Homo sapiens: one gene and its partners. The protein of the gene in region 1 interacts with the protein of each later gene in a biochemical or structural test. Each region holds a gene or a part of one and is shown on either strand. Other genes may lie near its edges.

What was found.
Region 2: the proteins of SIRT1 (region 1) and RARA form a complex in vitro, tested with the Homo sapiens proteins (one study listed by BioGRID and IntAct).
Region 3: of the proteins of SIRT1 (region 1) and SREBF1, one has a biochemical effect on the other in vitro, tested with the Homo sapiens proteins (2 studies listed by BioGRID, with this or other methods).
Region 4: the proteins of SIRT1 (region 1) and VDR form a complex in vitro, tested with the Homo sapiens proteins (one study listed by BioGRID).

The regions. Positions count from the first base shown.
Region 1 is NC_000010.11:67,908,624-67,915,655, reverse strand, and holds part of SIRT1 (NAD-dependent protein deacetylase sirtuin-1), read right to left. Parts: intron 6,401-7,032; coding exon 6,214-6,400; intron 3,183-6,213; coding exon 2,625-3,182; intron 1-2,624. UniProt on the Homo sapiens protein: NAD-dependent protein deacetylase that links transcriptional regulation directly to intracellular energetics and participates in the coordination of several separated cellular functions such as cell cycle, response to DNA damage, metabolism, apoptosis and autophagy.
Region 2 is NC_000017.11:40,354,149-40,358,144, reverse strand, and holds the end of RARA (retinoic acid receptor alpha), read right to left. Parts: intron 3,844-3,996; coding exon 3,639-3,843; intron 2,883-3,638; coding exon 2,724-2,882; intron 2,137-2,723; coding exon 1,919-2,136; 3' UTR 502-1,918; downstream 1-501. UniProt on the Homo sapiens protein: Receptor for retinoic acid. Retinoic acid receptors bind as heterodimers to their target response elements in response to their ligands, all-trans or 9-cis retinoic acid, and regulate gene expression in various biological processes.
Region 3 is NC_000017.11:17,826,955-17,833,986, forward strand, and holds part of SREBF1 (sterol regulatory element-binding protein 1), read right to left. Parts: intron 1-7,032.
Region 4 is NC_000012.12:47,901,994-47,909,875, forward strand, and holds the start of VDR (vitamin D3 receptor), read right to left. Parts: upstream 3,002-7,882; 5' UTR 2,962-3,001; exon of another isoform or gene 2,638-2,961; coding exon of another isoform or gene 2,571-2,637; intron 1-2,570.

The DNA of each region.
Region 1 (7,032 bases):
TTTGTCAATAATGTAGTCACCACAAATTCATAGTGTACTCTGTAGACACTGTGAATCTACAGTATCACCTGTGAACCTAAATTTACATTCACCCGAGATCTCAGGCCCCAAGACCCACCTACTGCTTCAGAATGTGTGTGTATATACACATACAGTCTAAGACGCTTTTGAAAACTCCTCTAAGATGTAATGTGAATCCATGAATACCAATGAAGTTCTTTCTACAGCACACCAAATCAATCCTAGCTTGGCCATTTGGGGTTTAAGTGAAAGAGTAGGATCCCTAAAAACTGATGGAAAAGTTTTCTATCCTTGAATTCACAGTATGTCCCTAACTTAACATCTCTTCACACATAATAGATGTAGTATTTATTGTACCGTATCCCAGACGAATTCTCAAAAGCCTGGTTACCACACTGGTAGGTGGCCTATCTCAAGTTCTCTCCAAAGTGGCTCTCGAACTTTTTCATACTGCATCATGACCCAGTTCTCACCCTGACTACAACCTGTGTGACAACTCTGACCTGAATCCCTAAAATTTCACAGTCCACTACAAATCACTGTGAAAACCACTTATTTCCCTCTATTACAACAGACACATAGTACTCATGAGTTTCCCAAGACACCACAGGCAGGGCACAGTGGCTTACACCTGTAATCCCAGCACTTTGGGAGGCCAAGGCTGGCAGACTGCTTGAGCCCAGGAGTTTGGTATCAGCCTGGGCAATGTGGCAAGACCTTGTTTCTACAAAAACTAAAAAAAAAAAAAAAAAAAATAGCTGAGCATGAGGGCATGCGCCTGTGGTCTCAGCTACAGCTACTCTGGAGAGTGAGGCAGGAGAATCGCTTGAACCCGGGAGGCGGAGGTTGCCGTGAACCGAGATCACACCATTGTACTTCAGCCTGGACAACAAGAGCAAAACTCCGTCTCAAAAAATAAATAAATTTAAAAAAAAATGACTGTTCCAGGTTAACTCTGTTTCCTGGGCAAAGAGATTGTCCGTTTGACACATCTGTCAAAATGACATTCAAGAAAAGTTCCCAGTGCAAGTCTTAGTGCATAGGTAGACTTTGTATACGCTAGAGACAACTGTGTATCTAAGTCAGTAGCAATTTTTCTACTTTCTGACTTCTGCCACGATTTGCAAACGTAAGCATCCCTCTATGCTTTTTCTAGTTTCCCCTGTGAACACGTCTGCTCTTTTTAAATCCCTACTTATTGTTAAATATTTTGCTCCTTAGAAAGCCTTCTGTAATCTAATCTCCAAGTAGAATCTACCTTTTGGGGCTGGGCGCCGTGGCTCACGCCTGTAATTCCAGCACTTTGGGAGGCCGAGGTGGATGGATCATGGGGTCAGGAGTTTGAGACCAGCCTGACCAACATGGCGAAACCCCGTCTCTACTAAAAATACAAGAATCAGCCGAGCAAGGTGGCGCATGCCTGTAATTTCAGCTACTCAGAAGGCTGAGGCAGGAGAATCTCTTGAACCTGGGACGCAGAGGTTGCAGTGAGCTGAGATCGTGCCACTGCACTCCAGCCTGGGCGACAGAGTGAGACTCCGTCACAAAAAAAAAAAAAAAAAAAAAAAAAAAAAATCTACCTTTTGTGTGATGTTTTGTTCAAAACAATAATAAAGTACTTTGTTCTTCAGCAGCACCTATACCAAAGTATTAATGAGTATCACTCACATTTATAATTATACACAACATTAATCACTGTGTCTCCATAACTTACCACAGTGCCTAATATGAAAAAGGCCAAAGGTTTATTCAACTGAACTAAAATGTATTTACAGCAAATGACTGGAATACTCAAATACAGTTGTCTAAAATTTGTCAGTTTTCGCCAAGTATGGTAAATGGAATGAGACTTAAAGTTCTAAGTTATATAAGACTGTTATAGCTAAGTTACAGTGGTTTTCTTTTTTTTAACATAAGTTAGGAATTTCCACCATACAGACTACTTGGACTTAAAACATCGGCTTCCAAAGAGTAGAAAGTGATTTCACATGTCAGTTAACACTTATTGATAAAGACTATGCATGTTCTAAACAGGGTAGAAACTATTCCTATATTCAGTGGAGAAGAATCACGCGTGTTTTTTCTAAGTCCTCAGAGAAAACAAAGATGTGTTCTACATCTGAGACAACACCGCATAGTAGTTAAGGGGGCAGGCTCTAAGCATAAATAGACTGGATTTTAATCTGGTTCTTCCACTTCTTAGTAGTTACTGTGCATGAGGTATTTAACCTCTATGGTCCTGAGTTTTCCCACCTGAAGAAGAGTAATAGTTCCTACCTCAGATTAAAATCAGGTAACATATGTAAAGCAGCTGACCTACAGTAAGCACTCAAATCTGTCATCATTTCTGCCAGCTAATAACCCATTCTTATTTTTCCATCCCCTAGAGAAACACAACATACAGAGCACTATTAAACACTTCCTTCTCCATATCATGTTAAGATACCAGAAGATTTACCTTTCTGATTACGAACTGTACAGTTTCTCTAAACAGAATCAACTACATAAAGCTACCCTATCGATTAACCTGCCGAAATAGCTAATTTTTTGGAAATACTGTTATGACATTTATACTTTCAAAATGGTCCGACTGCCTTTCTTACCATCAAGCCGCCTACTAATCTGCTCCTTTGCCACTCTATTAGGCCAGCATTTTCTCACTGTTCCAGCCACTGAAGTTCTTTCATTTTTCTCCCCAGTACTAGAACCAACATTCTTCAAATCCGGATTTTCCATCTGTTCAGCAATACTTTCAACATTCCTAGAAGTTTGTACTTCCTGTGGTTTTTCTTCCATACAACCTTTTGATTCAGACACATCTAAATCATCATTACTCTTAGCTGCTTGGTCTAAAAGTGTGACAATCACTGAAGAATCTGGTGGTGAAGTTCTTTCTGGTGAACTTGAGTCTTCTGAAACATGAAGAGGTGTGGGTGGCAACTCTGACAAATAAGCCAATTCTTTTTGTGTTCGTGGAGGTTTTTCAGTAATTTCTGAAAGCTTTACAGGGTTACAGCAAAGTTTGGCATATTCACCACCTAACCTATGACACAATTCATTAATTATGACATCACAGTCTCCAAGAAGCTCTACATCAAAATGCAGATGAGGCAAAGGTTCTCTATTAATTAATATCTGAGGCACTTCATGGGGTATGGAACCTAAAATAGGGTGAAAAATAAGAGTTAGAAAAAGGGAGGAGGAAGTAAGCTAATAAAACCACAACAGATACATTATGCAAAAATCCAACAAGGGCTTGAGCTCCAAATTCCCAAAAAAGACCCATGCACTAAATACTTAACCAAGCCATTACATTTCATCAAGCAAGCAGATGGGCAGTTAAGTGTCTTTTATAAAACGCTCAAGTTCTGCTCCTATCACCTGGTTACCCCTGAGCAATCTTCCCAGACTTTCCCACTCTGAACCTCAAATTTCCTTGTCTGCAGAATGGGGATGATAATAGTACTTCTCCACAAGACTGTGGTGAGGATTAAATGAGTTAGTCAAGTGCACAGAAGAGTTCTTGGTACATAAATGTTCTACTTAAGTAGCTCCTGATATAAAGAAGGTGAGCTGGGTACAGTGGCTCACGCCTGTAATCCCAGCACTTTGGGAGGCCGAGGCAGGCGGATCACCTGAGGTCAGGAGTTCAAGACCAACCCGACCAACATGGTGAAACCCCATCTCTACTAAAAACACAAAATTAGCCGGGCGTGTGGTAGCGCATGCCTCTAATCCCAACTACTTGGGAGGAGAACTGCTTGAACACGGGAGACTGCAGTGAGCCGAGATCATGCCATTGCACTCCAGCCTGGGCAATGAGGGAGGGAGGGAGGATAGGAGGGAGGGAGGGAGGGTGGGAGGAAGGAAGGACGGACAGATGAACGGAAGGAAGGACAGACAGAAGGATGGACGAAGGAAGGAAGGAAGAACGGACGGGAAGGATGGACAGAAGGAAGGACTAACAGAAGGAAGGATGAATGGAAGGAAGGACAAACGGAAGGGAGGGAGGGAGGGGAGGGGGGGAGGGAAAAAGTCATATAAACATATTCTACGCTATTATAAACCTGTTTCTTTTTTTAATTATCTTTGCAACACATCATACTATCCCACAGAAAGCTTTTGAAAGAAAAGTTTTTAAGGACCAGGCATGGTAGCTCATGCCTGTAATCCTAATGCTTTGAGAGGCAGAGGAGGAAGGATCACTTGAGGCCAGGAGTTTGTGACCAGCCTGGGCAACAAAGTGAATCCCGTTTCTACAAAAAAAAATTTAAAAATTTGCCAAGCATGGTGTGCGCCTCTGGTCCTAACTACTCAGGAAGCTGAAGTGGAAGGACTGCTTGTCCCCAGGAGTTGAAGGCTGCAGTGAGCTGAAACTGCACCACTGCACTCTAGCCTGAGCTACAGCAAGACACCCGTCTCTAAAAAATAAAAAGAAAAGCTTTTAAGCAGAGTGCCTTTGATTTTGCTTTAAGAAGAGCAACTCAAGAACAAAGAGATTTGTATATTAAATTTTCATGTTTCATTTAATTGCAAATTGTCTTGTATTCTACTTTAACAGAATTTCACAGCTAATTAGGTAAGACTGAGTTAACTGCTAAAGCCACGAGATATGGGATAGACACAAAATTGAAGAGCTTGACTCCATGTTTCTTCCAACTGTTTACTCTGGCTGCCTTGACTGCTGATGTGGGGTCTAATTCAATTCTCTGGCTAGGGATTTAATATTTTTCCTCTCCTCTTTCCCTCACTTATGAAAGGACACATCTGATGCAACTGAAATCTCTCTCTCTCCTCCTCTGATTCTAAACTAGAGGAGGAAACAGACAGTATGAGAATATATATGACAAAGAAATTTTCCTGAGAGTAATAAGGATTTAAATTTTATGTGAACACTTTTATATACACACCCTTTTGGGTAAACTATATCGACATATCACCGTTATGGCATGGCTGTTACTACAAGAATGAACCAATCATTCTGAGCCCCCAAATTCCATCTTACATGGTATGTTACACTTCTACCAAACTATACATTTGAATTTATTAAATGTGAAATCAATTAAATTTGAAAGATCAAAACTGTAATCAAAAAATATAAGGATAAAGGACCATTTCATAAATTAATTGATGCTAACCCTTGCAACATTAAAAACACATTCCACCAAAAAGTCTAAGTTGAACTCTACCTTTGTCTTAATTTTTCACATAAATTAGAAGTAGAGTTTAGCATTACTTCTGGGTTTGTTTTTGATTTTTTGAGACAGAGTCCCACTCTGTCACCCAGGCTGGAGTGCAGTGGCACATTCTCGGCTCATTGCAACCTCTGCCTCCTGAGTTCAAGCGATTCTCATGCCCCAACCTCCCAAGTAGCTGGGACTACATGTGCACACCACTATGCCCAGCTAATTTTTGTATTTTTAGTAGAGACAGGGTTTCACCATGTTGGCCAGGCTGGTCTCAAACTGCTGCCCTCAAGCGATCCACCTACCTCGGCCTCCCAAAGTGCTGAGATTACAGGCACGAGCCACCAACATTACTTGCGTTTTGACAACCCTCCACCCCCCATCAAAATGTCAGATTCACCAGTCTCAATGAACAATGCCACCTAAAAAAACAGTTCAGCCAGATGTGGAGGCTCGTGCCTGTAATCCTAGCTACTCAAGGGGCTGAGGCAGGAGGATCACTTGAGCCCAGGAGTTCGAATCCAGCCTGGGCAACACAACAAGACCTCATCTCTACTAAAAATAAAGAATTTCTGGCCAGGCATGGGGGCTCATGCCTGTAATCCCAGCACTTTAGAAGGCAGAGACAGGCGGATCACCTGAGCTGAGGAGTTCGAGACCAGCCTGGCCAACATGGTGAAACCCGGTCTATACTAAAAATACAAAAACTAGCCAGGCATGTTGGTGGACGCCTGTGATCCCAGCTACTCAGAAGGCTGAGGCAGAAGAATCGCTTGAACCCGGGAGGCGGAGGTTGCAGTGAGCCAAGATATGCGACTGCACTCCAGCCTGGGCAACAAGAGGGAAACTCCATCTCAATAAACAAACAAACAAACAATTTCTAAAATTAGCTCTTCACCACTCTTTCAAACAGAAGCAGAGTTAAGATTACTAGCGTCTATTATACAGACCCACAACCCATGACATTATATATAGAAATGTTCTCCAAAAACCATCACCAACTTACTTGGAATTAGTGCTACTGGTCTTACTTTGAGGGAAGACCCAATAACAATGAGGAGGTCAACTTCATCTTTGTCATACTTCATGGCTCTATGAAACTGTTCTGGTAAATTTTCACCAAAAAACACAATCTCTGGTTTCATGATAGCAAGCGGTTCATCAGCTGGGCACCTAGGACATCGAGGAACTACCTACATATTTTCAGATTTTGGTTGAGGTAGAGAAGCAAAGAGTAAGCCCAAGTTAGAAATAGTCAACATTTCCATACCTCTAAGAATACATTTCAGAATTATTAAAAAAAAAACAAAACAGAAAAGCTATGGATAAACAGCAACTGTCAATGATGGGTAGTTTATTAACATACTATGAAACAATGAAATACTATGCTCTTGTTATAATATCTATGTAGAAAAACACTTGACATTGAAGAGTCCATCATATATTAAGAGGAAAAACATAATGTGTGTATATACACTAAATGGGAATTGATCCTTTCAAAAAAAAATAGACATTTGTCAAATAAAATGATTCCATTTTATTTATTTGAGATGGAGTCTTGTTCTGTTGCCCAGCCTGGAGTGAAGTGGCATGATCTCAGCTCACTACAACCTCCACCTCCCGAGTTCAAATAATTCTCCTGCCTCAGCCTCCCAAGCAGCTGAGATTAAAGGCATATGCCACCATGCCAGGCTAATTTTTGTATTTTTAAGAGAGACGGGGTTTTGCCATGTTGGCCAGGCTGGTCTCACTTCTGACCTCAAATGATCGACCCACCTCGTCCTCCCAAAGTGCTGGGATTACAAGCATGAGCCACTGCACCCGA
Region 2 (3,996 bases), on another chromosome or scaffold:
CCGCCCACCTCAGCCTCCCAAAGTGCTGGAATTACAGGCATGAGCCACTGCGCCAGGCCTCTTGTTAGGTTTCTATGAGTCCCTGACCCCAGCTCCTGTGCCATCTGTCATTCCTGCCGTGATGGTGAAGGCTTCCCAAGGACCAGAAATGTCTAGGGGTGGCTCCGGCTTCCTCCCTCAGACTGGGGGTTCCCTGAAGGTGGGGGCAGCTTTCCTCCTCTTCTCTCCCACTCCCAGACTGGGGCTCCTTGACATGGGCAGTGTGGATCCCCAGACTGAGGGCTTCCCAAGGGGCAGGACTTTCTCCTTCTCAGCATCTCCAAAGACCCCAGCACAAGGTAAGCCTCAGAAGGCAGCTTGGAAGGGTGCCCTGGCCAGCCCCTTGGCCCCAGTGCTCATTCCTGGCCATCACAGGCCCAGAGCACATGACGAAACCCATCCCAAGCCCCCAGACCAGACGCCAAGAGGAGGGGGTGGAGGCAGCAAGGCTGGAGGCATGTGTAGAATAAATAGAACTTTATTCTTTATCCAGTAGATCTCAGTGGAAAGCCCAACAGTAACAGGTGCACCCACGGGCTCCAGGGGAAGGGGCCCCAACCCCTGGTGAAGGAGGTCGGGGCAGAGCCAGCTCCCCCAGCTGGGGGTGCAGGGGTGAGGGGAGACCCCCCTGTAGGCCCGTCCTGCGGGGTAAGGAGGGGGCACGGGGGTGGGACAGGTTGGGGGTGGGGGGCAGGCCAGGGAAATGGAGGAACTCGGGCCAAGTGTGTGTCGGCCCATCTACTGTCCAGTGTGTGTGTGTTTGTGTGTGTGCGCACGCGCATGTGTGTGGTGTCTGGGGGCCCTATGGGGGTGCTGGTGGCTGAGGCCGGGGGTGGGGGCAGCTCGGGCCCCTGGCCAGCCCCTTCACAGTGGGGGCTGGGGAGCCTAGATGATGTGGGCCCTGACGGGAGGCAGCTCTGCCGAGGAGCCAGGTCTGGGAAAACTCTGTCCCGGGGCCCTTGCTCTGCCCTGCTCCATGCCTCATGGTGGGTGCAGGCAAGTGCCAAGGCCAGGAGCCTGTCCTTTCAGGGCTGCCCCACACCGTCCACACCCAGTGGTCAGGCAGAGGGAGAAAGGGGCTGGCGGCTTCTCCAGTGGGAGGGAGGGGAAGGCAGGCCTTGGAAAGTTAGTACTTCACAGTTTTAAAGAGAAAACTGAGGAGGAAAAGGCTGAGGAGGAGAACTGGGGGGCACAGGGACATGAAAGGAGAGTGGGGGCCCCTTCCGAGCCACTCCCTCCCCCGGACCCACCCCCTCCAGCTCTGGATCCAGCTCCCCCCAATACACAGCACAAATTCCTTCAGTATAAATGTGCTTAAAATGAAAATTCTTATTAAAAAAATCAAAACAAAAAAATTAAAATAAAAACAAAACCAGCGAGAATTAATACCTGGGGTTGGTATGGCAGGGTATGTACAGGGGGAACCCCCCGCCCCTGTCCCACCCCCTCTGTCACCAACCGAGGCAGGGGGGAGGTTGAGGTTCCCCAGCTGGGGAGCAATGGCTTGTGAGTTCTGAGGATGGGGGAGCCAAGTCCTGGCGTTTGCTGGTGATGAAGATGTGGTGAGCTGGGCAGAGGGGTGTCTTGATGAACACGAGGCCCCCAGGACCCATCCTGAGACCCAGGACCAGGGGCCTCACTCAGTTCCTGGCCTCGGCCTCTGACGTCAGCCCAGGCTGTGGGAGCAGGCAGTCCACTGAGGGCCCAGGCCTCTGTCCAAGGAGTCGCTGCCTCCTCCCTCCCCGTCCCCCAGGGAAGGTCCCCAGTACTGCCCGGGAGGGCAGGTGGGGGCAGGGCTGGTGCGGGGTCACATGGTCGGTAGAAAGGCAGAGAAAAGCCGGGGCGGAGGGCGAGGGCTGTGTCCATGTGGCGTGGGCGGTCACGGGGAGTGGGTGGCCGGGCTGCTTCTGTTGGAGCTGGGGCTGAGGCTGGGGCTACAGCTGCCTGGCGGGGGGGCCAGGCCACCCCCGTCCCGCCCCCCACCCCCCGGCTGTCCGCTCAGAGTGTCCAGGCCCTCTGAGTTCTCCAACATTTCCTGGATGAGAGGCGGCATGGAGCCCGGGATCTCCATCTTCAGCGTGATCACCCGCTCAGCCCCTGCAGGAAAGGAGGGGGCAGAGGTCAGCACGCTGGGCCAGCCCTCCCACCCCCAGCCCCAGCAAGCCTGGCTCGAGGTGGGAAGATCAATACTGCTGATATTAGCATCTTTCTTGGGATTCAGTTCTTTGACACGAGCCAGCTCTCTTAAGCCCCCAGGTCCAGAGGCTGGTGGCAATGGGGCAAAGTGGTCCCGAACTCCGGCTCCAGGGCCAGACTGCCGGCCTGGGCTAGACGCCAAGCCCTTCCTTCCCCTGTGCTGTGTGCTAGGGATCATCCCGACCCCTCTGTAAACACGAATGTTATCCCCGCCCTCGGAAGGGAAACTGTAGCTAGGAGCTGTTGAGTGACCCACACAAGGACACACACCCACGTGTCTGGTTCCAGAGCCACGATCTGAACTACCACACAAAGGTGACACAGGCGGGCCACCTCGGCAAAGTGGAGTCACTAGGGGACCTCAGCCTAGACACAGATGGGGACAGGTGTCGTATTGTCCTGGCACAAAGACATGGGGTGCTGGCTTGGATGTGGGGGCCTGGGCCAGGTGTCGGGGGCCGGTACCCCTCCAGGTCTGTGAGCCTCACCCTTGGCGCTGATGCTTCGCAGGTCAGTAATCTTCATTAGCATCTTGGGGAACATGTGGGGGCGGCTGGGCCTCCGCTTCCGCACGTAGACCTTTAGCGCCTCCAGCAGCGGCTCCTGCAGCATGTCCACCCGGTCCGGCTGCTCCAGGTCCTGGCGGTCTGAGGAAGCAGAACCACCCCCTGAGCAGCTGGGAACACAGCTGCACCCCCAGCCTCGGCCACCGGGGGGCGTGCCTGCCCAGGCCATGGAGGAGGGCAGCTCGCAGGCGCCTCCCCACACAGGGCAGGGCATGGGGTCTCTGCTGCCGCAGGGTACAGAGGCCCTTAAAAGGGAGCAACGGGAGCTGAGGGTGAGGGGGTGCCCCAAACCCTCCCTGAGCCCAGTTAGTGGGATGGGACCCCAAATGGGCAGTGCCATCCTCAAGCAGGGAGAGGGTTCCCAGGCAGGCTCCCACTCCCCCCTGTTATTCTGGAAACCAGATGAAATGGCAGAAATCACAACAATAAAATAGCAACTAACAAGCACTGGAGCTCGCTCTGGGCACCTGCACAGTATCTGTTACCACCGTAATCCTCCCATCAACTTCATGAGCTAGAGACCGTTACCGCCCCCACTGTACAGAAACGGAGGCCCAGAGAAGTTCAGCAACCTGCTCAGGGTCATGCATCGGCCAGGAGGTGACCCTGGTTGGTCCGACCCTCAAACCCTCACTCTTAACCTCCCTAGAAGGGGTGTTGCCCAGAAATCGGGAACAGGAGTCCAGGCCCCACATGGCCCCCTTGCTGTGTAGTTGCAGACCAGACCCTGCCCTCTAGAGATACCTAACAGAGGTGGCCTGAAAGAGCTCCCTGGAAGAGACTCCAGGGCTGCACCCCCGTCCCAGCCCAGCCCCCAGACCCAGGCCCCCTGCCCACCTCCGCAGATGAGGCAGATGGCGCTGAGCAGCCCCGTCTCCGCATCATCCATCTCCAGGGGCAGCAGCTGGTTGGCGAAGGCAAAGACCAGGTCGGTGAGGGGGCCGAAGCCAGCGTTGTGCATCTGGGTCCGGTTCAGGGTCAGCCCGTCCGAGAAGGTCATGGTGTCCTGCTCGGGCGTGTACCGCGTGCAGATCCGCAGGATCTGGGTGCAGAGGATGCTTGGGTTCAGGGACTGAACCCGAACCCACTCTGAGCACTCGGCACCAGCACTCCGCACCAGCACTCCCGGAGGACCACCTGGCAGGTGGCCGGAGCAATGCTGTCTGATAGAATTTTCTACAATGATGGAAAGGTT
Region 3 (7,032 bases), on another chromosome or scaffold:
AGATCCATCTCTGACAATATCTACTGTGTGCCAATCCTGTGCCAGGCACTGGGGCCATTATAGATGAGGTGGTCAGGGCAGCCCATCTTAGGAGGTGACATCTGAAAGGAGGACTGAATGATATGAGGGAGTGGGCCGGAAGGGAGGGCAGAAGAAACAGTGTGTGCAAAGGCCCTGCAGTGGGCGTGGGCAGGATAGGAGGAGCGGAGGCAGTGAGGGGGTGGAGGCCAGGACGGCCACCAAGGAGCTGGGATTCCAACTCAGGTTGGTCTGTCATCTGAGCCAAGGACCCCAATTCTCCAGGGAATGGGTGGGAAAGGGATTTGCCAATTGATCCCTGCACTACAGACCACAAAGCTGCACCAACTGTGAAGAAGGGTCAGCCACAGGGGAGGATGTGGCACAGGTGCTCATGGGATTCCAGAGCACACCCTCTCGGCCTGCTAATGGAGGCAGCAGGGTGAGGATGGGTGCCCACCATCCCTCCAGGGAGCTGGGCTGCACCCCACCTGCTGTTCTGCTCCCACCAGGCACTTCCTTGATCCTCCTAACTGGAGTCGGCGGTCCTCGTGTTCTCAGCTGGTCGTGTATCCAGCAGTGGCACAGGCTGCCCTTTGTGCACTCATGGCTGCCCCGGGGGCACAAGTGTGTGCCAGCTCTTCCCGGAATGGGACGCACCCATGGCTGGAGCCCCAGGTGCACCTGGGCGCAGGTCCTCTTGAGGAAACTAAGGCTCAGACGGAGGCCTCGTGCCCAAAGTCCCACAGCTGCCATATGAAGAATCTGGTACACAAACCCCATTCTGCGGCCCCAGAGCCTGCCCTTCAGCCCCAGCCTGTGGGGGACAGCAGTGAGCCCCAACTCCGGCCTGCCTCTGCCCTGACCAGCTATCCTCATTTGTCGCAGTTCAGTGAGTGTGTGCAGAGTGCAAAGACAGAGAGGACAACACGAAGCTCTTTAAGGCTCAGCTCCGGCACTGCCTCCTCCTGGAGGCTTCCTAACCACCACCCCCCCAGACCTATCCACCTGCCCTGCCAAATTAGAGGCTGGGCCTCAGCTGGGGGCCCCTCCTGTCAGGGCCTGAACCAGCTGTGACCCCAGCCTCACCCAGCACAGGGCTGACCACAGCAGGGACCCCAGTCAGAGGCCGTGCAGACTCCAGCCATGGCTTCCTCCACCCTCGTCTGCCTCCACCCCCATCCCCTAACTGGTGTCTCCCTGGGCCTCCCTTTCCCTGCCTGCTTTCTGAACACCACAAGCTATTGAAGGCCAGGCTGTTCCCTCCACCAGGAATGCCCTTTCCACCTGGTGAATTCCTATTCCTCCATCAAAACTTGCTCTGATGCCACCTCCCATTCTTCCCTTGTCTGTGCCCCTCCACATGCCAGCTCCCAACATACTGACCGTCTGACCCTATAAACCTCAGAGCCACGTTTCCTCCTCCCCACTAGGCTCTTCCCGGAGCTACAGGTGTGCGGAATTACCCTCAGCAGCACCTGCGAGATGGCAATTACATGTGATGCTGGTCGGCACCAATTCAGACACCTTGTCCGAGAGGTGGCCCAGGGCACATACTTATCACTGGCAGCTGAAAACAACCCACGGGCCTGATGCAGTGGCAATTCTGGGAGTAGCCCCTGCTGCTGGGCACCTGTTTTCAGTCAAAATGGCAGTGCTAAGGTTAGGCGCAGGGGCTCACACCTGTAATAACAGCACTTTGGGAGGCAAAGGCAGGCAGATCACTTGAGCCCAGGAGTTCAAGACCAGCCTGGGCAATGTAGCAAGGCCCCATCTCTACAAAGTTTTAAAAATAGCTGGGCATGGTGGCATGAGCCTGTAGTCTCCATTACTCTGGAGGCTGAGGTGGGAGGATCCCTTGAACCCGGGAGTTCAACATTGCAGCGAGCTGTGATTGTGCCATGGTATTCCAGCCTGGGTGACAGAGCAAGACCCCGTCTCTAAAAACAAACTGGCTCACGCCTGTAATCCCAACACTTTGGGAGGCTAAGGCAGGCAGATCACGAGGTCAGGAGATCAAAACCATCCTGGCCAACATGGTGAAATCCAGCCTCTACTAAAAATACAAAAATTAGCTGGGCGTGGTGGTATGTGCCTATAGTCCCAGCTGCTTGGGAGGCTGACGCAGGAGAATCATTTGAACCCAGGAGGCGGAGGTTGCAGTGAGCCGAGATTGTACCACTGCACTCCAGCCTGGTGACAGAACGAGACTCCATCTTAAAAAAAAAAAAAAATATATATATATATATATATATATATATATGTATACACACACACACACACACTCACACATACACACACACACACATATATATATATATTTCTCCCTCTTGAGTTGTTTCTCTGCAGCTTGTTTTAAAGCTCATATGAAGGCAGCAAGATGTTTTCGAGCTGCCAGGCTCCAGTCTGGAAAAGATAAAGCCCTTTACAACCTTCCCTACAACGTATTCCCTTTCCTTCTAGCATCACCGGCACTGGGTGATGGTCATTGTCTTTTATGTACTTTTGGTGGCTTTGCTTAGTCCCAAGGCTGTGACCAGAACTTTGAAGGTGCTTTCACTCACATTTCCAAGGCTGCCTTGATGTGTTTTGCACAGAAACCGCCATCTGTGGCCAGATGGCCACTCTGCCCGTCCTCCCCCAGCCAGAAACACTGCTTCCTCAGCAGGTTCTTTTTGTTTGTTTGTTTTGAGACAGGGCCTCACTATGTTGCCCAGGCTGGAGTGTAGTGGTATGATCATGGCTCACTGCAGCCTCAACCTCCTGGGCTCAAGCAATCCTCCAGCTTTAGCCTCAGCCTCCTGAGTAGCTGGGACGACAGGCACACTCCACCATGCCAAGCTAATTTTTTTAGTTTGGGTCTCACAATGTTGCCCAGGCTGGTCTTGAACTCCCAGACTCAAGCGATCCCCCTGCCTCAGCCTCCCAAAGTGCTGGGATTACAGGCGTGAGCCACTGTGCCCAGCATCAATTATCTTCCATGGAAGCCAAGGATAGGGTGCTTGTTCCCCATGGCGGGGGGTGCTCCCCACTGGCCTAGTCAGCCCCATCCTGTCTCTCACCAACTCCAGACCACCACATGGTAGATGCTCAGAACTTGGAACCATAGCCTGGTACATCCTAGAAACTTCCAGCACAGGCTCCTTGGGTAATTGCTGCTAACATTTGTTGAGCTAAACCTATCGCGTGCCAGGTACTGGTTAGGTGCTCTAAATGGTGATTTGTTTGTTTTCTCTAAAACAAACAGGGCCTTGCTATGTTGCCCAGGCTGGTCTTGAACTCCTGGTCTCAAGCAATCCTCCAACCTCAGCCTCTAAAGTCAATAAGATTATAGGCGTGAGCCACTGCATCTGGCTAAATGGTGATAATAATAACACTAACTGGCATTGGTTCAGGGCCTACTATGTGCCATGCACTGCTTAAGCCTTCACTCATCGGATCCCCACAATTCCAAGAAGCTGCTTTTAGTACTGCTCCCTTTACATTGTTAAGAACCTGAAGGTTCTTGGACTTGTCCAAGGTCATACAGTAGGGCTGCTTGTTAAGACCCCTGATCCCAGCCTTCTAGCTGCAGGGAGCACAGGGACCCCAGAGCCTGGCAGGGGCAGCATGCAGAGGCAAGGCCTGCTGGGAGACAGGTGCAGGGACGGGGAGTCAGTTAGGAAAGGAGCTCAAACAGGGTTCGGGGTAGGCCACAAATTCCCCCTAGGGGGATGGACCCCCAGCCCCGTCCCACCTCCCACAAGCCCCAACCCAGCAGGGGACCCACACCTGGAGCCAGTCTCAATGGCTCCCTGACCTCTCACCCCTGAGCCAGTTAAGGCTTTCCCCACCTCACCCCCGACACACACAGCCGCCCCTGTGGAGCACATGGTGCAGGCTGTCACACACTGTCAGTGCCCAGGGTCAAAAGGCATGTCCACATGGCCCGTGGCTGCTAGGAGACAAGGTCAGAGGCACTTCCTCTGGCCGGCCTGGGCTCCACCTGTCAGCAGGCAAAGTCCAGATCCCAGGCCTCTGCTGGCAGTGACTCCTGCCTGGAGCTGACCGGGTCACTCAGGATGTTTGTGTCCAGCTAGGTGAATGTTGGGCAGAAGGTAACTCCCAACCCGGCTGAGACAAGGGAACTTTATCTTGGAGCACTAGGGAGCCATGAATGGTTGGAGACCAGGGGAGTTCTGTGCTGTAAGCTAGGGCAGTAACTAGTCTAGAGCTGTGTTTTCTAAGGAGTGCCAGTGCTTGGTGGAACTAGGGAGAGAACTGGGGCATGAGATATCCTGGGGAGAGGTATGGGGTGGCAGAGCGGGCCCCCATTGTGCCCTACCAGGGCTGGCCTGGACCCAGCAAACAGCCAGACACATGACTAGAAGCAAGGCCCTGTTGTGGCTGGGCTGGGCATGCTGGGAGGGACATCAGGGCGGGAGAACTCTGAGAACGCACTGCTCGGGGCAAGGTGACACCCAGAAGGGCTTTCTGGGAAGCAGCCTCTGACGGGGCTTGGCAGACATCTGGGGTCCGACAGACAAAGAGCAGACATGACGGGGTCCAGGCATAGGAAAGAGACCCCGAGGCCCTGTTCCAGGCTCTTGGCCAGAACTCTGTTTCCGTCTGCCTCTTCTGCACTCATAAGCTTGTGCAAAATTGGATAAATTAATCCTCAGCAGGGAGGTGAAGACTGCCACGGGCTTAACAATAATCCCCAACACAGGTACAGGGCCATCTCCTGATCCATCCTCCCCCGACAGCTGCAAGGTACTCTGAGGCCCAGAAGGAGACAGGCTCACCTGAGGTCTTGGTGCAGATGCAGGACTCAAACCCAGGGACACTATAGCCAGGGCAGTGCCTTCACCCACAGATGCAAGGACTCATGGAGGCAGCTCCATCCCCAAATCCATTCACATGACAAGAGTTTGGCTGTGGCAGGCAGCAGGACCGGATGGGGCCCAAGGCCCTTGGCTGGCTCACCAGGGCTGGTTCCCAGTCTAATGACTCAAACACTGCTCTGGACTGGGATGGGGAGGTAGCCACATAGCCTCTGACCCCTCTGTGACCCACTTCCAGGCCCCCAGAGTAGCCCCTGTGGAGGAGCCTCCCTCAACCCCTCATCCCCATTCTTAGGAGCCCAGTGCTTAAGAGCTTAAGAGCTAGGCTCTGGAGCCCACAGCCTGGGTTTGAATTCTGGCTTTGCCATCATCTGGCTGTGTGATCTCAGGCAAATCACTTAACCTCTCTGGTCCTCAAGGCCGTCATCTTCATCATATGTCTACCTACTTGGGGTTGTCAGGGGATTAAGTGGGATTATCAACACACTGTCTGAAACACAGTAAGTACTCAATTAGTGTTTTCTGTTCACATTACGATCCTCCATCCAAGCAGCCAGAGGGAACTGAAGCTCGGTGTGCCCCTGCTCTGACCCCCGACTGTCCTCACATCTAGCCCAGCTCTGCACTCTGGCACTCAAGGCCAGCCTGGCCCCCTCTTATCCCTCATGTCTCTCAAGGGACCTGGCATTTCCACCCCCAAATCTTCAGACCTTATCAAACCTGCTCAGCTCCACTCCTGGTAGAAGAAGCTTCAAAAGCAGGCTCGACCTCTGACCAGCAATTCCCCTCCCAGAACCTCATCCTAGGAACACAGTGAGGATCCGGGCAAAGACTGGCCTCAGTGGCCAGGCACAGTGGCTCACGCCTGTAATCCCAGCACTTTGGGAGGCCGAGGCGGGCAGATCATGAGGTCAGGAGATCGAGACCATCCTGGCTAACACGGTGAAACCCCGTCTCTACTAAAAATACAAAAAATTAGCCAGGCATGGTGGCACGCACCTATAGTCCCAAGCTACTCGGGAGGCTGAGGCAGGAGAATGGTGTGAACCCGGGAGGCGGAGTTTGCAGTGAGCCGAGATCGCGCCACTGCACTCCAGCCTGGGTGACAGAGCAAGACTCTGTCTCAAAAACAAACAAACAAAAAAAAAAAAACAAAGAAAAAAACCGGCCTCAGTGTCCACTGCAGCAGTTTATAAAGATAAAACAACCTAGGTGTCCATCGACAGGGAATCAGGTGGGTAATAAGAGGAAACCTTACTGTCGTCTGGCTGTTGACATGGAACCAAGCAGATTCCAATCAGCTGTGAACCAATGGACCCTATTTTAATTTATAAAAATACAGATCCAGCCGGGCGCGGTGGCTCACGCCTGTAATTCCAGAACGTTGGGAGGCCGAGGTGGGCAGATCACAAGGTCAGGAGATCGAGACCATCCTGGCTAACATGGTGAAACCCCATCTCTACTAAAAATACAAAAAAATTAGCCGGGCGTGGTGGCAGGTGCCTGTAATCCCAGCTACTCGGGAGGCTGAGGCAGAACTGTTTGAACCTGGGAGGCGGAGCTTGCAGTGAGCCAAGATCGCACCACTGCACTCCAGCCTGGGCGACAGAGCAAGACTCCGTCTCAAAAAAAAAAAAAAAAAAAAAAAAAAAAAAATATATATATATATATATATATATACACACACACATACAGATCCACAGCTGCCCGGGGCTGGGAGCAGGAACAGGAACTGACTAAAGAAGTATAAGGGATCTCACTGTGTGATAAAAATGTTCGACAGCTAGTAATTGTCACACAACTCAAAAAGTTAACTAAAAATCATTGAATGATATACTAAAAATGGGTAAATTTTGTGATACATAAAGTATACCTCAATAAAGTCGTTTTTAAAAAATTGATGAAGGCCGGGCATGGTGGTTCATGCCCTGTAATCCCAGCACTTTTGAGAGGCTGAGGTGGGCAGATCACCTGAGCTCAGGAGTTCGAGACCAGCCTGGCCAACATGGCCATCTCTACTAAAAATACAAAATTTAACCAGGCGTGGCGGTGCATGACTGTAATCCCAGCTACTTGGGAGCTGGAGAATCTCTTGAACCTGAGAGGCAGAGTTTGCAGTGAGCTGAGATCATGCCACTGGACTACAGCATGGGCAAAAGAGCGAGACCCTGTCTCAAAAAAAAAAAAGTTT
Region 4 (7,882 bases), on another chromosome or scaffold:
GTGTCGGGGGCTGTCCTCAGAATTAAGCTACCCCTGTTTTCCCTTGAGCATTAAGCCTCCCCCAACCTTATCATCCCCTCATCACTGCTGTGACCTCTGCTGAGTTTGGAGTGATGATCACTAGGGTGATTAATATTCCATTTTTCCCTGGAAAGTTTGGGTTTATGTCCATTGTCCTGGTATAACCATGCATGGCATCCCCTTTCACTCTCAGAAGTATCCCAGTTTGCAAGATACATTACACAGGCACTCTTTCTAGCATATCTAGGAGGGCACTGACACAGGAAAAGGTTAGGGACAAATCAGAGGGAAGCAAAATGACAAGCAAGGCCTTGGTGGCCCAGAGTGGCAGCCAGGCTGGCTTCAGCCCAGCTGGATCCTCTCAGAACTGGACAATAGTGGAGGGAGAGCCTGAGAACTGCTGCCCACCCTGGGGCTCAAACTGTCTTGGAGTCAGGGGCCTGGTCTGGTGGGTTCTGCTTCCTGCTATCCCTCAGAGGGCCTGGAGTCATGCTGGGCACACAAGAGGCTCTTAATCAAATCTGGTCAATTCCTTATTTCCCTCTACCTGCATCCAAAACAGAATTGCAGCAGGGACAAATGGAAGCTGGAGCCCTGTAATTCTTTATTCAGCAACACACCAAATGTCATCTAGGTGGTCCTCCCGTCTCTGGCTCTCTGGCCCCTAGGACCTGACTGCTGCACAGGCAACAGCGAGTTTCTAGCAGAGGTTCCAGATGCCTATTCCAGCCAGGACAGCGGTGCCTCCTTAGGATGTGGGGTAAGGAATGAAACAATGGGAACTCCCTTTCGTGTCTTAGATAACCACCTGATGTAGTAGCCACCTGATGTAGCCCACTCGGTCCCAGGCCTTTCTCCATTCACAGCCTGGGCTTTGGACACCTGCTATCTGTTCTGGGGGTAGAGTGTAGGGGTTCAGGAGGTCCTCTCGGAGCTTCCTCTGGGGCTTAGTTACAAAAGAGATCAGTTTTGAGGTCAAATAGGGGAAGAATACTGAGAAACCATAAACACAAACTATCAGGGCACCCCAAACAGCACCCGACCTTCCATAATGTTTATACAAACAAAGTCTGATGGCCTCTGCCGAAGAGGAGTAAAGGGTTGGGAAGGCTTTCTAACTCTCATTTTTTCCCCTCCTTTCTTACCCCATTTTCTAGTCCCTCCTTTAGCTTGGTAAGGGTCCAAGTCACAGCTGATCAAGACCAGCCAAACCCAAAGCCATGGGACCCAGCCAGAGCATAGACTGTGAATTCCCCAGCTTTTTGCAGTTTGAGTCAGCCCCACAGCTGGATTGGCCTCCCAGGACTCTTCTCAAATAGGTCCAGAGAGGCTGCTGAGTGGGGGCCACGGACTCTGCAGGGAGGGCTACTTCTGTTCAACGATCTCTAGCACCCAAAACAAAAGCCAGGGAGAAATGTGCAGTCTTACTACCTTCTGGTCTGGCTGCATGCCAGCCCTGAGACTGTTTCAGAAAGACTCACAGTTCCCTCCAGCACTTGGACAGGGAAGGGACGGCAGGTCTCTCAACACACAACACTCTTAGTCCATAGAATTGAGGCTCCAATGTTCAGATAACCCATTTCTACCTCAGCAAATCACCCTCACTCCCTAGCCTGAGTTAAAGCCTTCTTTGCCAACACCATGACTTCTCTGGCCCCAGACTTTCCTAATTTCTTTTGCTCACCCCCTTCACTAGCAGAGATGGGCTGCTAATGAGACCACTAGGCAGAAATGGAAGGAAGGGCTGGAAAAGCCTGCAGTGCTGGGATGCACCTCCTTATCCCAGGAGAAAGATGAGATGTAGATTTATCATAAAGCCACTATCCCTTCACGGTCACCTCCTGCTAGAATCATCTCATAGCCATTCCATAAGCACTGCTGTGTTGGGTATCTGAGCCCCTGCCCATGAGGAAGACCACCTTCCAGCAGGGAGCTGGAGCAGAGCTGAACTCTGCCCAGGAGAGCTTCTGCAATGCTCAGAAAATGCCTGCCCAACTGCTTGCCTGGGCTCTGGCCCCTTTGGCTGCAACTGAGCCCAGACAGGAGGCTGACTCACTCACCGCACGCATAGAGGAGGAGGAGGAACAAGAGGAGGAGGAGGAGGAGGAGGAGAAGGAGGAGGAACTGTGAGAAGGGTCTGGGCTTGGAGACCTAAGGCTCCCCCAGCCCAGGCTAGGTCTCAGACTCTGGTCCCTGGGTGAAGAGAAGGAGGGGCAGTTGTACACTGGCCCTGGAGACCACAGGCTGTTCCCTCCTAGATACTTCTGAATCTTCCTCACCACCACCCACAGATCCAGGGCACCTCACTTTTCAAACAGAAACTACTCCTTGAGCCCCTTCCTCATTTAAATGCTTGCCCCTGAGTTCCTCTGAACATCTATTGACAGGCTGTCCTGAAAAAAAATAGGGCCAATTAGGTCTAAACTCATTGGTAGTTCAAAGAAAAGTAAAAAAAAAAAAAAAAAAAAAAAAATTACTTAAAAGACCCAACTCCACCATCACAGGTGACCATACCTGGGCCCTGTAAGACAATAAATAAGGTTACACACCCTCCACTCCAGCAGTTCTGAGCACCATCGACAGCCAATCGCTCCTTTTCTTATTCCTCCACTCCATGCCAAGGCGCCCCGACAGAAGAAGGAAACAAATACTTCTTGTTGCCCAAGTGCTAAGCACTGTGTTAGCGGAGCATTTCTCCTAAGCGCCGAGGATGTCGCTGCTCCCCTCGCCAGCCTGGCACGAACTTCAGCTTTCTCAAACCTCAGTGCCCCTTAGTGTCCCAGCCTCATGGCACGACAGCCCGGACCTCAGTAGCCAAGTTTACCGCTGAGACTTAGACTCTAATGCTCGCAGCCGGGCGCTCAGGCCCCGGTATCCCAGACGCCCCGACCCCGAGTCCCTATCCTGAGACCCCCTTTCCCGCTGCTCCCGGGTTCGCACCTGGTCCGGCCGGCGGGTGGACAAGCTGTTCCGCGCTCCCGGCGCACACGGCTCCGCTGCCGCCTTTTGACAAGCAGAGACAGCCCAGCACCTGGCCCCGCCTCTCGGTCAGGCCCCGCCCCGGCCCCGCCCCGCCCCTCCGCCCCGCCCACAGGTCCAGTCCTCTCTTGCCAGGAGCTCCGTTGGCGCTGCAACCATCTTGACTTGGAATCAACCACCCTATAGGCCACGCTGTAGCCTTAGATACTCTAACTCGTGAAATTTTCATCGACCGTCGTCCATAGGGCAAGGCACGCTTCTGCCCTCTGTGGGACAGAGTTGTCGATGATTATAGGTGCGGATACCCGCTTCAGCCTGTGTTAATCGGGGATGCAGCCCCCCACCCTTCCTGCCGTGGTTCTACCCAGCCTGCTGCGGACGCCTGAGCCAGGTGCGTCACCCCCACCTGGGCTGACCAGGCCAGGACTTCGTCGTCCGCGGGACGCTGGGGGGCGCCTGCCGACTGGCACCGGCGGCTAGCTCCGCACGAATGGGAAATCCCGGGCTCCGCTCGCCAACCTGTTACTGCTGCAGAACGCCAGGAAGCTCAGCCTGATCCCACAGATTAGGGTAAAATATCCCGGGGGGCCGAAGTGGAAACCGGAGTTGCGTCATTGCTCCCACCCGATATCACCTTGGCAGCGACCGCGGCTGACCACGTTCCCGGCCTGTCGCGAATCTCACCCAAGGGAGCTGAGTCTCAGCTTCCCTGGTCCCTGGTCCCGAGTTCCGCCTTCCCCCCCCGCCCCGTGGCATCGGCGTGAGGGGAAAAGATAAAGACTACCTCCTGAGACCTGGAATTGTGGATGGCTGCGGAAAACTCACCACAGGAAATTTTGGCTTAAAGTTATTCTCTGCTTCCCTTGACTGTGTGATAGGCACCGCTCTATCTGCTAGAGGACAGGTGAAAAAGATGGGGTTCCCTCTTCTTAGAACTCACTGTGCAGTGGGAGAATGTATAAATAAATAGTAATTACAACATAATCTTCTGGAATAGAAATGCTCACAAAATCATCCAGCAGTCGATGACCTCCTTTAGCCAGGGAAGATATTGCTATTCGCCTCTTACAGAGGAGGAAACCATGGCTCAGAGGGACAAGGTGAAAGGGTGGGAAATTGAGGCATAGAAAGTTTAAGTGATATGCCCAACATGACTCAGCTAATCAATGAAGGACTAGTGCTAGAGCCCAGCAAATCTGCTGGTGCAATGGTCTCTGAACCATTTCTGAGACAGCTATGCTGGACTACATCATAACCAGCCCCTCACAACTCAATAATAGGGTTAAAAGAAATAGACTGAGATTAAATAGAAGGAAGAACCTTCCAACAGTGAAGTTTGTTAAGCACTGCAACAGTTCATTATGGAGGTATCATGGCAACTTTCTGGGAAGACTTAAACAAAAGACAGAAGAGAGGCATAGCGTTTGATTGAACTTGGGAATGGACCATTTATTCTGAGAAACAGATGAAGTGCCCCTTTAGAGGTCCTGCCAGTCTGATGGATGGATTCTCTACCTGTAATGAAAGTAATAGGAAGGATCCCCTTGCCCAAAGCATCGTGGGAAAGCTAGCGGTGATTCTTGTGGGAAGAAAAGCATAAGAGGAAATTTCCAACCACCAATACCTTGGGACATTCTCTGCAAGTCCCATGAGCCTCTGAAAGAGGTTGAACACTCAGAAGTCACTTTTGTGGTGCTTGACTGGCCTGACATCTTGCAAATAAACCTTATCAAAAGATGGTGGAAGATGCGTACTAAGTATTCCGTAGTAACTGAGAGTTAGTCTTTTTTCACAGCCTTTGTTGGAGGAGAGGTACTTGTAATTCACATGTGTAAACTGCTTTATAATTTAAAAATTCTTTGGAATATCTTACTTGATCTTTATCATAGCCTTTTCAGACATGAAGAGTAAAAAATACCGTTCCATTGTACAACTGATGTGCAGAGTTGTCAAGGTTTCTACAGCTGAGGAGTGTCAGAGCTACTGGACCCAGATCTTCTCTCTGCACATCCCACTGTTTCATGCTGCCTCTAAAAAACAAAAAAAAAATTTCCATGCATGCACTTTTCACAGAGTTGAAGAACTCAGAGGTTCTGCGTTTGGCAGATGGGCAAGATTATAGATGTCATCACGGTCCCCAGCACATGCCGTCATCAGCCCCGTCACCTTGTCTGTAACCATGTTCTTCCCATATTCCCCCAATACCTGAACTGTTCTCTCTCATCCACCTCTCCAGACCCTCTCCTCTTTCAGGTCCTGCCTATTCCATCAGGCTTTTCCAACATCTCCAGGAAAGGAACTGTCAATTCTCTGGTCTTTGTAGCGCATGCATTTTCTATATTGCATGGTTTGGCACCTGCTAATGAACCATCTTGTATTTACATTGAACAAAGATAGATTTTTTTTTGCCTGTTTTATTCTTAGAAGGAAGGTTATTTTGTGAAAGTAGAAAAGCAACATCATATGAGATTCACTTCTCCTGTGTTCTGTTGTAATCCCTAATTGTCTCTGGACCCTACTTCTCCCTAGCCAGGTACACAACTGGAAAGGGAGGTTGCTGTCCCACACCGTGTTCTCTTGATGCCTCGATGACAAGCACCATTCCTGCACTACAGAGTTAATAGTTTTAAATTCCCCTATCTTGACTTCTCCATAAACCAGGTACCAGAACCTCTGCAGAAGACATTAATTTTTCTTTTCCCTGAAGTTAACATTTCTCATATTCTCACTTATCCCTGGGATGGGTAGTGGTCTTTATTGGGATGTACAGATTGTTTTTTGTCAGTACTCATCTCTGCCAAATTACATCAGGGAATATCTCGTAAGCACTTGCTTGGTTAATATTAGCCAAGTCTGGTGGTGTGCTAGATACTCTGCTATAGTGCTATAGACTCAAAAATCTATATAGAAACAAAAGAGCCCTTCCCGGTGCATCTGACTTTGATGGAAAGATTCCAGAGGTACTAGGCTGAGGATTTCGTTTCATTCATTTCATTCCTGTGCATTTCATTCCACAGAGTCCAAAGAAAGGCAGGGCCTGGTCTCTTGACCTCTCTGCCAGGCTCCAGGCACCTGGGGATGGCCTGGGCAGTTGTGGCTACAGTCAGGCCACAGGACTGCAGCCTGTCCTCATCTCTGGGCTTCCTTTTTCTGCAGCCTGGCCACTGTCCTCGAGGCTGGCTGATGCTCTCTGCACTTCTTGCTGTGGTGTCAGAGCTAGAGTGGGTCACTTTGTCCCTGTGAGTCTCCCAGAGACCCTGTCCCCATGGACAGAGGTTTTTTGAGCTGTCTAAAGGCTGCTCTGCAGGTAAAAATGTGCCCTTTGAGCTCTCTCTGGAACACTCCCATCTGACTGTTTGTTTTTCCCTTTTTTAGGGCCATTTTCCCCCCTTAAATATTTTATGGTTATGAGCACGGTAGGACTGAAGAGAAGCCTCTCTTCAGTAAACACCCAGAGAACATTCTGAGAGACATGAGCGTGGAGTTAGAAAGACAGAAGGGACCAGGCCATCTTTTCAGTTTGTTCCCTTGTTTTAGAGATTTTTTAAAAAACACACGTTAAGTTCAGAAAGATTAATTCATTTATATTTCCTAACCCAAGTTAAGACAAAAAGGATCAGGGATGACTCTCCTTATTTATGTTCCAGATGGTAAAAATAGAATGAATAAATGTAAGAAGCTGTAGCAATGAAAGCAAACCAAGGGGTCTTCCCAGGACAGTATTTTTCAAAATTTTAACTGCAACCCATAATAAGAAATAAGTTTTTACTGTGACCTAGTTTACTCAGGAATATATATAAGTTCCTGATACAAAAGATGTTCTACAATGTTTTCTATTATTTTCTCTATCCTCTTTTCCTTCCTTCCTCCCTCCCTCCTTCCCTCTTTCATTCCTTTTTCTTCCTTTCTCTCTTTCTTTCTTCCTTCCTTCCTGCCTTCCTTCCTTTCTTTCTTTCCTTGCTTTTCCCTTCCTTCCTTCCTTCCTTTCCTTTCTTTTCCTTCCTTCTTTCCTTCCTTCCTTTCCTTTTGGGATCCACCAAATTTATTTCACAGCCCATTAATGGGTTGTGACCCAAAATACAGTATTAAAAATCCTACCCTACACAGTGGCTCAGGCCTGTAATCCCAGTACTTTAGGAAGTTGAGGTGGAAGGATTACTTTGAGGCCAGGAGTTTGAGACCAGCCTGGACAACATAGTGAGACCCTATCTCTACAAAAAATTTAAAAATTATCCAGGCATTGTGGTGTGCGCTTGTAGTCCAAGCTGCTTGAGAGGCTGAAGTGGGAGGATCGCTTGAGCCTAGGAGGTCAAGGCTGCAGTGAGCTATGATCATGCCACTATGCTTGAGGCCTGGGAGGCAGAGTGAGACCCTGTCTCAAAAAAAAAAAAAAAAAAAAATCCTGCCCTAGATCATGGGCTAGGCGGACTTTATTGTTTGAGTAGCCAACTGACAGAAGACTCCATCCAGGGAGTTGATGGAATCTTGCCTTTCTGAATGACAGAACAAGTCCCTCTCACCATAGGACCCCCTCATTTAGAATCTGGAACATGAGATTCACAGAAATACATTTGCGAGACCATCAATGGCTTACAAGTAGCCCCCTCAGAACCCTGCAGGGGATACATGATGGTTTTGGTGATTCTACCTCCAAGGGTGCATGGTCAGGGTTAGGTCACTGAGGCAGAATGTATCCACCCAATGTTTGCTTTTGTGGCCTTTACTCAACTGATATATTACCACTCACAAGTATTTTCCAGGTTTGGGGGGTTCTTTTAGCCTCATGATGCCTATGGCATCTCAGAAATCTTGACTGCTCCAGAACAGAACAGAACAGCTCCAAGGAGTCCTGTGCAATGCCATGAGAAGTGAATGCACACAG